Regions from separate parts of the Homo sapiens genome. Here regions 1, 3 and 4 are each reported to be linked to region 2. The links are microRNA targets in miRTarBase. Many come from high-throughput screens and were not tested one by one. Region 2 holds a microRNA gene; each other region holds the end of a gene's coding sequence.

Region 1 (3,203 bases), not on the chromosome of region 2:
TACATGTCTACTCTTTTTTTTAATTTTTTTTTTTTTTTTTTTTTTTGAGACAGGGTCTCTGTCGCCCAGGTTGGAGTGCAATCATGGTTCACTGCAGCCTTGACCTCCCAGGCTCAAGAGATCCTCCTGACTAAGCCTCCCAAGTAGCTGGGACTAGAGGTACAACACCGTGCCCAGCTAATTTTTTCTATTTTTTGTAGAGATGAGGCCTCACTATGTCTGCCTCAGCCTCCCAAAGTGCTGGAATTACAGGCATGAACCACCACACCCAGCCCTACTGTATTTTAGAACTTCTGTTCTTGAAAAGCAAAGTCAAGTTCCCTGTAAGTGCATAATATATTCTCATTTTCAATGAGAACAGAAGATGGTTTGTAAAAGCTATTTTTAAGTGTCCCTATTTGCCCAGTAATTCCTCTTCTAGAAATCTATGAGAATAATTCAAAATATAGCCCAAAACACAAAGGCATTAAGTGTTCAGCAAAACACTGAGAATCTAAATAACCAATATAAAGAGATTGGTTAGGCCGTGCAGCGTGCTCACGCCTGTAATCCCGGCACTTTAGGAGGCCGAGGCGGGCAGATTACCTGAGGTCAGGAGCTTGAGACCAGTCTGGCCAACATGGTGAAACCCCGTCTCTAGTAAAAATACAAAAATTAGCCAGGCGTGATGGCATGTGCCTGTAGTCCCAGCTACTCAGGAGGCTGAGGCAGGAGAACTGCTTGAACCCAGGAGGTGGAGGTTGCAGTGAGCCGAGATCACGCTATTGTACTCCAGCCTGGGTGACAGAGCGAGACTCCATCTCAAAGAAAACAAACAAAATAAATAAATAAAAATAAAGAGACTGGTTAAATAAATTATTATATATCCAAATGATGAAATATTATGAAGCCACTGAAAATTATTTATTTAGAATGTTTGAAACATCAAAGTATTTATGATACAACACTAAATAAGGAAGAGCACAGAACTAAATTCAGTAAGTACTCAATGTTTATAAAAATATTGAAAAAAGACTGAAAGGAAATAAGCTAGACTAACAATACTTCCCTGCTTCTAATAATTTTCAATACATTCCACCCTTTCTACTACAACGAGCTTTCTTAGTCAAAAAAAAAAAAAATGCACTCTGTTTGTTGACTAAATACTTTCAAGACTCTTTTACAGTTAGTCAATTCCTGAAAAGCCAGGAAAATCAAAATTGTGAATTTTAAGGCTAATATTTAATTCCAGATTACATTTCCCCTGACCCTAGAATATACATTTTTAAAGTTAAAAAAAGGAAAAAAACGCAAATGATAATTATTATAAATACATAGAAAAAAAGGCTATAAAAATGACTAGAAATATGACAAAAGGGATTAATTTTGGTTGGTGGAATTATATGGCTTTTAAGTCTTAACAGTGTTTATTACATTTTCTACAATGAACATCTATCACTTTTGTAATTTAAAAAAAGTATTTGCTATCTTTCTTTTTAAGAGACAACCATCAAGCAAATTATATCACATCTATACGATGGAATATTAATAGACATTTTTAAAAAGTTGTAGAATATTTAATAATATAAAAAAAGGTCTGATATATTATTAGCTGACCATACTATAGAACAGTATGTTCAGAATGATCCCATCGTTTTGTTTAAAAACAAACAAAATATCCATGTATACACAGAAAACACCTTGGCAGGAAACAGACCAAAATATTAATAGTGTTTTATTCTAGGTAGTAGGATTAGAGATTATTTTAATTTTCTTATTTTTGCTTCTGTTTTGGTCAGTTTTCCTCTACTGAATATGAATTACTTTTCCAATATGAAAAAAAAAAAAAGTTTTAAAAAAAATCTAGGTTAAACAAAAAGTTACCTTGTTAAACAAAAAGTTACCTTGTTAAACAAAAAAGAGACAAAGACAAGCAGGGGCATCTTACTGAAAGAACTTCCTTTACAAAGATTTCCAGCCCCACTCCAGCTCTAATGTTTAAATCCATAAACTACTTGTCTTCTAACATCACCAGGTCAGTAAGCATCAACCCTTCCTGCTGTTCCAGACTTAGTCATGCTGGAGGAAGACATGAAATCCAGCAGCAGAGGCCACCCCTCAGGACTGGGTGCGGTGGCTCACCCCTTTAAACAAGACCCTGGTGGGGAAAAAAAAAATCTAACCACCGTCTAAAGCTATGGAACTGATTACAAGTAAATATAATTTACAATCATTTGATTAAGAAAATGCACTATTTACGTTGCAAATAACACAATACCTACAGAATTATACTCTCAGACTTGGCAGAGACCTCTAAGATCATCTGAAGACAATTTCCAAGACCCTGTCTTTAGGATGCTTTGTAAATATTGACTGGAAACAATAACAGAGATGTCACACCACAGAATCTTAAGTAAACAGTTCAAAAGCCTGGCTTCCTGTTTATACAACTGTAAGTCACCTTATTGCTAGCTACAAGGTTATTCAGCATTCTGATTTAATCTAAGAATTTCTTTATTTTATGCATAATAAAAGGGACTACAAAGAACAGCTGAAAAGCCAGAAGACAAAGGAACAAAAATAAACAATGACGTGTATTCCAACCCAAACAATGAGAAATCTATGCAACTAGACTATCAGTTCAATCTATTTCCAGGTCGCTATCCTCACTGTGACACGTGGCAGAGTTACGCACAGATGTCAGCACCAAGACTTCCTTTTCTGGGAGTAATCCAAATTCCTGGAGAAAAGCTTCAAGGTCCACAGCAAAGAAATCATCCCCCAGCTGGTCAGTAACACGAACAAAATTGCCGATCAATTCACCCCCCTTATAGATCAGCAGGGCAGGAAGGGCATTCCTGGTGAACTGACTGCTGGCGCCAATAACTGAGCTCTTCACCTTGCAGAACTTGACAGCTGGGTACTCTGCGGCAAGGCAGATCATGCAACCATTCATGGCTTCGGTCCCTGGAATGCCATCCTCATAAATATGAACCATGATGACAATGCTTTTCTGTTCTTTATCAATCATGTCTAAAAACCCTTCTCCACTGGAGATCTCAAAAACCTGCTTGAATTGGGGCCCCTTGTGAAGCTGCTGCCGCATCTCTTCCATTCGCTGCTTCCGGTACTGCTGCAGAAACTCTTCATCATCTTGGTCCTCATTCATTATGGCAAACTCCTTCAGAGTCATCTGCAGGCGGACCAGCAAGTGAGCATAAATA
Region 2 (3,447 bases):
GGACAGGCCTGCTTGGGAAGGGGGCCGCGGCTGGCAGACTGGGGCGTGCGGTGGGCGTTGGGGGAGAGGCCACCAGTTAGCCCGCTCCCCCGCCCCTTGCTTGTGCGTGGCCTTTTCGAACTCACCTCACGTCTCACACCGAAGTCATCTGCCCTGGTATTGGTGGTAAATATTGGATGTATGGGCTTGCTGTCTGCAAAGCGCCCGTGCTCTGTGCGTCTCTTTGCACATCTGCACGGCCCTGCGGCCGCTCCGAGCTGCCTTTGAGCCCTCCCTGCGAGCGCGCCGCCGAGAGGATGGGCTACCCATGAAGCATCGAACACCGAGGGCTGGCAAGAGGCCCCAGCCCGGCTGCCTCCCGCGAGGGCGCTGTCGGCCCTGTGGGCCTCGCCGTTTTGGTTGCTCCCGGAGCGGGGGTGAAGGGAGTCTCTGTGGGCAGCCGCGCTGTCGGCGCGGTCACATGGGGCCCGGGCGGCGGGGAAGAATGCGTCCCTTGTGCTCCGCCGGCCTGCGCAGGCCCAGGCCCCTGCGCTGCGCTGCCGTTGTATCTGTCGAACCCTTTCGGGGGCGTGTTTCCGAGTCCACCTCGCACACTCCCACATGGAAGGTTTGGGGCGGGGGAGCTGCCTCCTCTCCTGTCTCGCCTCCTCTCCTCCCCTCTACTGTGGTAAATTCAAGGGGCACCCGACCTTATTGACAAGATTGACCTCTTGGGCCAGAGGCTGAGGGCTGTGGTTAGGGAGACTGTTTCCCAGCCGGGAGACCTCGAAGGTCCTTTTGCGGCGGCTTCCGTAGGTGGACACGGAGGTGTGGATGGAAGTCGGTGTGAATGGAAGTCTGTTTTGGGGGGCTGCGTGGGGCCCAGTCGCTGGCCCCTGCGTCCTAGTCAGCCGTGTGCCTTGTACAGTGGGCGCTGGGCAGCCCTTCAAGATTTTTCGTTGGAGAAGGCATGATCAAAGTCCTGTTTTTTACTTTTAAAATGTATAATTGTGGTAAAATATACATAACAAAATCTACCGTCTTAACTATTTGTAAGTGTGCAGTTTGGAGGCATTAAGGACATTCTCACTGGTGTGCAGCCACCACCACCAACAATCCATGGAACTTTCTCCTCTTATAAGACTGAACCTCCTACCCATGAAACACTAACTTTCCACAGCTCCACCCCAGCCGCGGCACCTGAACCTAGCTTTCTGCTGCTGCTGTGGATTTGATAGGCTCCCGCTACAACACGGATTGCTCTGGGAGGATGAGATAGAGGGGCTGAGACCCCAGCAGGAGTCCCATGAAGGGAGTGCAGAATATATATGGAAACGGGGGCCCTGAGCTGAGGGTGGCAGTGGCAATGATTTTTTTGAGAGAAGAGTAAAGAGAAGTAACAGGACTTCAGTAACTGATGGTGTGTCCGGAGTTGGTCTTGGTGGGTTGTGGTCTTGCTGACTTCGTGAACCACAGACTTGGTGGTGATTGTTAACAGCTCTTAAGGATAGCACGGACCCAAAGAGTAAGTGGTAGCAAGGTTTATTGTGAAGAGCAAAAGGACAAAGCTTCCACAGCAGGGAAAGACAGCGGAGTGGGTTAACGCTGCAGGTGGGGGTGTAGGGGTGTGGGTGGGGGGGCGCGTGTGGGTGTGGGTGGGCGGTAGGGGTGGGTGGGGGGAGTGACCAGCTTTTTTTCCCTAATTGGCCCCTCCCCTGTTCCATTTCTGTCCTATCAGAGTTCCCTTTTTTCAATCCTTCCCCCGATTAGCTACTTTTAGAATCCTGCTGATTGGTGCATTTTACAGAGCGCTGATTGGTGCGTTTTGCAGAGTGCTGATTGGTGCGTTTTACAGAGCCCCGATTGATGTGTTTTACAGAGCACTGATTGGTGCGTTTTACAGAGTGCTGATTGGTGTATTTTACAATCCTCTTGTAAGACAGGAAAGTTCCTGATTGGTGCATTTTACAATCCTTTTGTAAGACAGAAAAGCTCCCCAAGTTCACACTTGACCCAGGGAGTCCAGCTGGCCTCACCTCTCAATGGAAAGTGAGAGGGGCTAGGGAGAGGCAGGGGCCAGGAACATTTCTCCTGGTACTGACTTGGGTGTGGGGATGTGACACATTCTCACTGAGATCAGGAGCCTGCCAGGGTTGGGGACCATGGGGATAACCCACATGAGACAAGTCTGTGCTGGGGTGTGCCCAAGGGAAGGCGTCCAGCACTCAGTTGCAGATGTGGGCCAGGGTGAGGCTGGGATCTGTGTGAGACATGCAGGTGTATTCTGTGTCCTCAAGTCTTGGTGGTGGTGACACCAGGGAGTGGGCACAGATGGGCCACTGTGGCAGACTGGGGGTCACCATCACTCAGTGAAAGTGTGAGCAGGAAAAATCGCAGAGAAGACTGAGAGGAGGGAACTGGTGAGTTGTACATAGAAATGCTTTCTAACTCCTTGTCTCAGTCTGTTTTTGCTACCAGTGAGGCTTACAATGTTTGAAAGACCCCAATCCCAGCATGCCTGCTTTATATAAAATAAGGTAAAATTCATCTGAGAAAGACACACTTCCAGTTCTTCTAATCTTCATTTTTCAAAAGGTCAGAGGTTAAGCGTTTCTATAAGAATTCAGTAGGTGACAGGTGTTTAACCGAGGCATCGATTTACCATCTGTCTATTTGGAAACAGGAGCCGTCTTTTCTTGATTCCTGAGAGGGCAGAGCAGGTGCCCAGGATGGCCCTTATTTCTCCTTTCCTCTTCTGTGGGAGTCATCTTTAAATGGAAGCTTCTGCTCATGGAAGCATCACTTAGCAAATGTGACATTCTACCTATCACCCATGTAGTGGAGGAAAACCCATTGAAAAGCATCATTTCTGTTTGCTGTGGTATACTTGGCTCAGTGCTCAGGCCAGTCAGGTTCTACCAGGCACTGTTTTCTTTGGACATTTGATAACTCTCTGTGAGGAATCTCTAAGAACAGTTTCTCAAAGTAAACCAAGAACACCAGAGTTGAACAGTGAAGTCCAGGGTCCTCCCTTGGGGCATGCTCACCTGGACAATGCCTTCCTGTGTTGGGCTCGTCGGGGTGCTGGGGCTGCTGAGGTGTGTTGATGCCTGTTGATTTCTAGAGCAGGAAGGTGACATTAGACTGGAAGAGGCAGACACTTAAGGTACAATATGGAGGAATTAAGGAAATACCAGGTTTTGGGAAGACACTGCTAATAATTTATTTTTGAGATGATCTGGCACTGTCACCTAGGCTGGAGTACAATGGCACAATCATGGCTCACTGCAGCCTCCACTTCCTGGGCTTAAATGATTCTCCCACTTCAGCCTTCCAAGTAGCTGGGACTACAGGTACACAACACCACACCTAGCTAATTTTTTTATTTTTTGTAGAAACAGGGTCTCGCTGTGTTGCCTAGGCTGGTCTTGAACTCCTGGGCTCAAGTGATCCCTCCACCTCGACCTC
Region 3 (3,203 bases), not on the chromosome of region 2:
TCAAGATTAGAAGATGTCCACACTCTTTGCATTACCTCCCTAAAGGAGGAAACACCCATTAATTTTCCCTTATGGAATCAATATGGAGTGGAAATATGAAATGAGGAGATGTTTTAGAAAGCAGGACAAATCTACCTACCATTACTGGAATTAAAATGTATCCTCTGGGCCCACTCCATTGATTCCGATCTGAGGTGAGGAGGACTAAAAGCAGCAGCAGGTTACAGAAAGACTGAATAAGATGAAAGTATGCTACGTATGTCTAGCTGGGGAAGGGGGGATCTGGAAAAAAAATCTTAAGAACTAGAATGTAGTGTCAGTCAGCATAGCTGCTGAAATCTACGTTGTAGAGGTAAACCTAGCAGAGCTAATACAAACAAGCACCTTCAAAGTTAACGTCCCACTTCCTGAGCACTGCAAAATACGACAGTGAATGCTATTGCCATTTCACCATAGGCACACTAGAGAAAAAGAGGAAGGTTAGTCAAGGATGGTGCCAATGGCCAGTCAGTATCGGCTTACAGCTTGTAATGCGTCCTGACATCACTATCAAGCCTGACTATTGAGCACCTGTATCCAGTTGAGTCACCACCACTGTCCTCCTATTTGCATGCATGATTTGAGGGGAAGACTAGAGTGTTTTAAATCATCAATAAAAAGTGGAGAAAACAAAGGTTATTCAGAGCCTGTCTCACTTGGGGACACAGATCCTTCTGTCCAGTCTATCAGAAATATAGAATACATTTTTCAATCTAATGAATTAATTTTAAAAGGGACCCTAAACAAGAAGCCCAATCAAATGCACACAAGTAATCTAGAAGACATGATTACCTCTAAAATATGTGCATATATCACAGAGATGTTAGTGCAGATTAATATATTAAAGAGACTGTTAAACAACTGAGGCTGAAGTTTTAAAAGAGCCCTCCCCCCAAATCTTCACGAAACATAACCTAAGAAAAGCCCAAATGTTACTAGGAATGTAAGACTTAAAATTATAAACTCCTAAAAAATAGAAGTGCATGGTGGAAACACTGATAGGTCTTTTACTATATGAACACAAACTTCTTTGTTAAAAATGGATACCTGAACAAACCCATTTAGGCAAATAGATTAATCTTTAACACCCTCATTACAAAGTTCACACCTCTGAATTTAACCGTCATGAAAGAGAATGATCCAACTGCTATTTATGTTCAAGTCCTGTATTTTTGGCCATGTAACTGAAAACTCCTTATTCATTCTTTAACACACAGTGCAATAGTGAAATGACTCTGCCACTGTGTGTTTTTTAAAAAAAGATCAGAGTAAGCATGTTCCTAGTAAACCACAAAGTAGGATATTGAGGAAGCAAATCTAGATTAAAAGGCAGGAAAAAAAGGCAGAAGTTTAAATTTCACTAATTTTTCAATTTATTAGCATACCAGGACCCTTTAAACCTTGTTCCCATTAGCGCCTGGTATTAGATGTGAAGGATCAAACCTACGGATCTATCTCCTGACTGCTTTTATAAGGCGTGTAAAAGTCGGTTTTCAACTGCACACAGGCCTCCTAAAATGCCTTGTTTCTCTAGTCCCTCCTGCTTTAAGCAGCATGAGCAGTAAAGCAGGGGTTGGACCAAATAAAAAGACAAGAGCTAACTGAATTGTATGGGAGCAGCATTTAACATATTCCTAGTCAAGGACAGGATGGGAAGTAAGTGAAGAATAGGGCCAGGAAAATAGTGTCCTATAGCAGAGGTGGTTGGCACTCGGGGTAGGGTGTGCAGTGGTGCTCTACGAAGCAGCAGGATCACAGGGATGTACTTCTTATCACATTTCTATGAAGAAATGGGAAGATCGGGATATGAAAAAGAAAATGTTCTATCCCCAAATAAAAGCAGAGCATGGTTAATGGGACCTGAATGCACATTTATAGCATAAAAGAATGTCAATTCTATTTCATAAAGGAAAAATCTCAACTCTTTGTGACTGAGTTTCACATTAACTGGAACTTTATTTGCTTAAAACCTAAACATTGTCAGTTTGAAAAGAAATCCACTGTGACCTGTAGACTGATCTTGTTGATTAAATTCTAGGGTTTTTTTTTTTTTGGATTCTTGGTAAAATTTTATCCAAAAAACAGGATACATATATATTTAGAGAAGGAAATATGAAATCAAGAGTTTTGGCAGCCCCTGCTTTTTTTTTTTTTTTAGCTCCCTAAAGACTGTAGCAGGATAAAAGGATCACTGGCTCCGAGTCTCTTTGAGATAACAAGTGATGAAATAAAAAAGAAAGCCCATACCCTCAAATAAGGTCAGGTAACCCCATTGCCCACCCTCCCTACAAGGTAAAAAATGAGTACTTTTAGTAACAGTTCAGAATTCATCTTTATCTCCTACCTGCCTCATCGGTGGAAGTTTAAAGTCATGATTTTTTTTAGACATTGATACTTGTGTCTATAGACAAATAAACTCATATTAGATGACAATTGATTTTTTAAAAGTCCAGGTAGAGAAAGGAGCAATCATTTTGAACTAAAATCTTTCTATGTTTTTTGATTACTATTCAACTTGCTATTTTTTAGCAAAAAGCGAAGTTTCAATAGTGTTCATCTCAAATCTTATTGCTTTACAACCGTGGTACACCTTTCATTAAAAATAAAAAGATGAAGCAGTCAATCCAGTGATTAATTTGACATGGCTTTCATTGGGAAAGGGGAGGGCTGGCAAAGAGACCAATAGACAAAAAGGTAACTTAAACACTTACACATACAATGGTTTGCTTTAAAAAAAAAAAAAAAAAAAGAGAGAGAGAGAGAAATGTTACTTTCAACAAATGGAAAAAAGCACTGAAAGCCCATGAGTCAAGCCATAGCCAAAACCATGTTCTATCTTAAGTAGGTTCTTTTTTTTCCTCCCTCTTTTTTCTTTTTTTTTCTTTTTTTTTTTAATAAAATCTCTCCCCAGACCATCATCACTTTTAATCCTCCCCAGAAGGGGCTTCATCTTCAGACCCTTCATCCCCAGATTTCTCGGGTGGGGGGCTTGTAGATGTTTTCTTTTCTGGCGGGCTTTCCGGTTCCTCATCTTCTTCTTTGGGAGAAGGAGTCTTTTCCTTTGATGCCTTTGAAGCTGTGGGGCGACCCACTTTCCCTTTGCCTTTCACTGGACTTGGCGTCACTGAAAATAGAAAAATAATTTGGGGAAGGGAAGAGAAAAA
Region 4 (3,203 bases), not on the chromosome of region 2:
ACTTTGTCTCAGTAATAATAATAATAATAATAATAATAATACTCTGTCTCAATAATAATAATAATAATAATTTGTTTGCAGAATATAGATAGCATAGAAGGGATTTTTCCCAACTCTTGGTAAAAAAAACAAAAAAGTCCAGGTGCATGTACACAGGAAATGAGAATTTACCATGGGGGGCGGGGAAATAAGCTCCAACAAGCAATCCACATGTTATGCTAGCAGATGAGGCAGAGATCTTGACAGAGTGCTAAGCGTGAGTGACTAAGGAAGGTGCTGGGATGAGCTTCATTTCCCTTGCCAACTCTCCAATCCATTTAGATGTTCTATGAGGAATTAATCTCAAAAGCCTTCAGTACAACAGGGGAAGAGATATGCGTTGAAATTCCTTGACAAAAACCTCAAAGGAACTCCACTGTATTTCAAAGAGCATGAAAAACCACTTATGAAGAAAAAGACAAATGAAGTTAGAGAGTCTTATTACTATTGAGACTAAACCTATATTTAGAAGGAATCTTGGTAGACATATAGACCAAATCCAATGTAAGATTCCCTTTCACAGCACGTGGGATAGGTGGTTATTTTAACTGTTGGGCATTCACAGGAACAGGAAATCTTACTAACTTGAGTCTATTCCTCTTTAGAACAACTCTTATTAGACAATTCTTCCTTATATTGAAGCAAACATTTGTCACCTGTAAAGTTCCTCTTTGTTCTTATTTTTGCCCTTTGAAGCTACACAGAATAAATCTAATTCCTCTTCCTTTTCATAGCTCAATAGAAATTTCTAGGCAGCTATTGTATCATTCCCTCCTTGTCTGCACTCCCTTTCCAGCTATACCTTCTGTTCCTTCAGGGAAGCTACTCCCTTGTTCTTGCATCATCAGACCCTTTACAACCCTGGTCACCTCCCTATGGACACAATCAACTTATTAATGTCTCTCTTAAAATATGATACCCATAATTGAACTCAACCCTCCATTTAGATATGGACTAGATGGAGGGTTAATAAAAGCATGTAAGGCTTTTATTAACACCAGCTGACTACATTAGCTTTGTGAATAGCCATGATATATTTCTGATTCAACATTGAACCTCCATTTCTGTAAGGAAATATTTCTCTATAAACTACCGTGAAACCAGGTCTTCCTAACACCGTTCCCATCAACACCACACACATAAACACACACAAACACACACATCCACAAACACACACTCCACTCTGTACTTAGAGGGTTGCATTTTAAAAACCCAGAATATAGGGTTTCTCATTAATGCCTATTCAATCATCATTTTACTTTCAGTCTTAGTTCAGATATTTCAAAATACTGTAACTATTTCTATATCCCAGTGTCAATACACATTTAGACTCCAATGATTGTTCATTGAATACATTAATCTTGAATCCATCAGCCAAAAACTGGAGATATTTTTCATTTCTGCATCATCTACAAATCCAATGAAGTGTGCTTTCTGTCCCCCGACTTGTATTCTTCATGGGAGAAAACACTAAGATACAAATAAGAAGCAGAGGTGAGTAGGAACGGATGAAGGAAAAGAAGATTAATTGTCCCAGAAACAGATGAAGAAAAAGAAGATGGAGTGAGCGTTCTGACTCTTGGAATCAGAATATAATGTTCCCAACATTAGAAAAATATGGCTTTTCCACGTCTCTACCCTAGAGATGCCTTTTCAATCCAATCCAATACTGTGATTATCAAACTCTGAATTTTGGGGGAAAGCTCATTCAAGCTTAATTTTAAAACAGCTTTAAAAATTATCTTTGCAGCTTAAATTTCCTATAAAGTTGGGTTAAAGGGACATGCAACTGTCTATTGGTCATGAGGTATAAAAAGAACTCCCAAATGCCCCTTACAAATGCCTCAGGTATTATGTATATTTGTTTCAGGAATCAGAAGTGGACTGTATTTTTCAGTGTGAATTTGGGAATTCACTGAGATTGAATCTACCTCTTGAACTGAACATCATCTTATATTTAATGTCTCTTTTCTCCAAAATGAAGAAAACTAAGATTAATTTTGCCTTCCCCTCAACACCCATTTTGCAGAATGTGGGTCCATTCACAAAATTAAAAAGTCTCCTATTGTGCCTTTTTCCATTGTCTATTGTGACTCAGGATAGCAAATCCTGTGACTGAAACCTTAGAGAGATGGAAAAAGTGTTCCAATCTAAACGATCTAGAGCCAGGAGGGAAATGTCTTGAAAGCTTAACAGTTAAAGAATGGAGACACCTCAAAAAGGTCTAGTAAGACCCAAAGAGGAAATTTGTTTTGCACCTTTTCTGAACCTTTTCTAGACAGAGTGAAAGAGATGGATTCTTAATTAACTTCTCAAGACTGCCTTTGCCAGAAAGTTATGCGAGTGACAGATGAACATCAGAAGGCAATCGTGCTAACACTGATGTGGGAGGTTCTTTTCCTGACTGTAACAGTCACAACAAACCACATACCAGTGCTGTGAGATAAGCAGAGACAAGACAAGGAGGCTTAATTATACAGTAAGCTCCAACAGTCAGGTGAACCTCGTGCTTTAGGCATGACCAGAATCAAAGAGCCTCTCCAAAAGCCACCATTCTCAGGGTTTCCTGGTAAAATACAAGTAACTGCAAACAGGAAGATCTGGTATACTGTTCCCAACATGCAGTGGCCACAGCAGGTATTGACTGCAACTTCAGCTACTCAGGAAGACACCCTATCATGACTCAGGAAGACACCCTATCATGACTCTGGGATCAGGATTCCTTGCCGCAAGGCTTTGTCACTGCACTCCACACTCCTTGGGATTTTCCATTTCATCTCCTTCAAAGTCCGGCTTCAAACTCTTTTTTTGCTCAATTTCCACCTGCCAAGAATAGAAGTTGGAGATAAAGATCAAAAAGAAGAGAAAAAGCATGCAAATAAATAAGTAAACCAAAACTCCATAGGTACTTTGAAATTTCTTATAATTTTGCTAACATTTTGGGCGTTAGCCACATTGGAGCTACTGGCCCTGAGTATATCATGTCTCTCTCTTTGCACATGTTCTTTAACTGGTCTGTAATTCCCTTTCCCTCATGGTCCACCAGGAAAATTCTTATTCTTTGCCTTGTACATTTGGTCAAAGATCACCCCTTCTGTGAAGCTATTTTTGACTTATTAAGTAGACTTAGGTACTTCTCTCTGTGAATATTTCCACCGTATCTT

What was found. Region 2 holds the annotated microRNA hsa-miR-4499 (AAGACUGAGAGGAGGGA, at 2,379-2,395, shown strand). A microRNA usually pairs through its seed, bases 2 to 8, with sites in the 3' UTR of a target mRNA and lowers its output. Matches are read on the target gene's strand: a 7mer-m8 pairs with bases 2 to 8, a 7mer-A1 pairs with bases 2 to 7 and ends in A, and an 8mer does both.
Region 1: miRTarBase lists PDCL as a target of hsa-miR-4499. Seed matches in the 3' UTR shown: 7mer-m8 at 1,012-1,018.
Region 3: the mRNA of NUCKS1 is a reported target of hsa-miR-4499. Seed matches in the 3' UTR shown: 8mer at 2,050-2,057 and 7mer-m8 at 230-236.
Region 4: miRTarBase lists STON2 as a target of hsa-miR-4499. The part of its 3' UTR that is shown has no 7-base or 8-base seed match.

Annotation. Positions count from the first base shown.
Region 1 is chr9:122,817,465-122,820,667 of GRCh38, forward strand. PDCL (phosducin like) reads right to left here. Exons shown (of 4, transcript NM_005388.5): 4 at 633-3,172. The coding sequence ends at 2,621. Among named protein-coding and RNA genes, the nearest start is that of PDCL, 9.5 kb to the right of the region's middle.
Region 2 is chr13:20,432,778-20,436,224 of GRCh38, reverse strand. MIR4499 (microRNA 4499) reads left to right here and starts at 2,379; the gene lies at 2,379-2,447. All of the region lies in intron 4 of CRYL1 (crystallin lambda 1), which reads left to right.
Region 3 is chr1:205,715,317-205,718,519 of GRCh38, forward strand. It overlaps NUCKS1 (nuclear casein kinase and cyclin dependent kinase substrate 1), which reads right to left. Exons shown (of 7, transcript NM_022731.5): 7 at 1-3,163. The coding sequence ends at 2,964. Among named protein-coding and RNA genes, the nearest start is that of NUCKS1, 33 kb to the right of the region's middle.
Region 4 is chr14:81,265,636-81,268,838 of GRCh38, forward strand. STON2 (stonin 2) reads right to left here. Exons shown (of 8, transcript NM_001394390.1): 8 at 1-2,862. The coding sequence ends at 2,779. Among named protein-coding and RNA genes, the nearest start is that of GTF2A1-AS1, 46 kb to the left of the region's middle.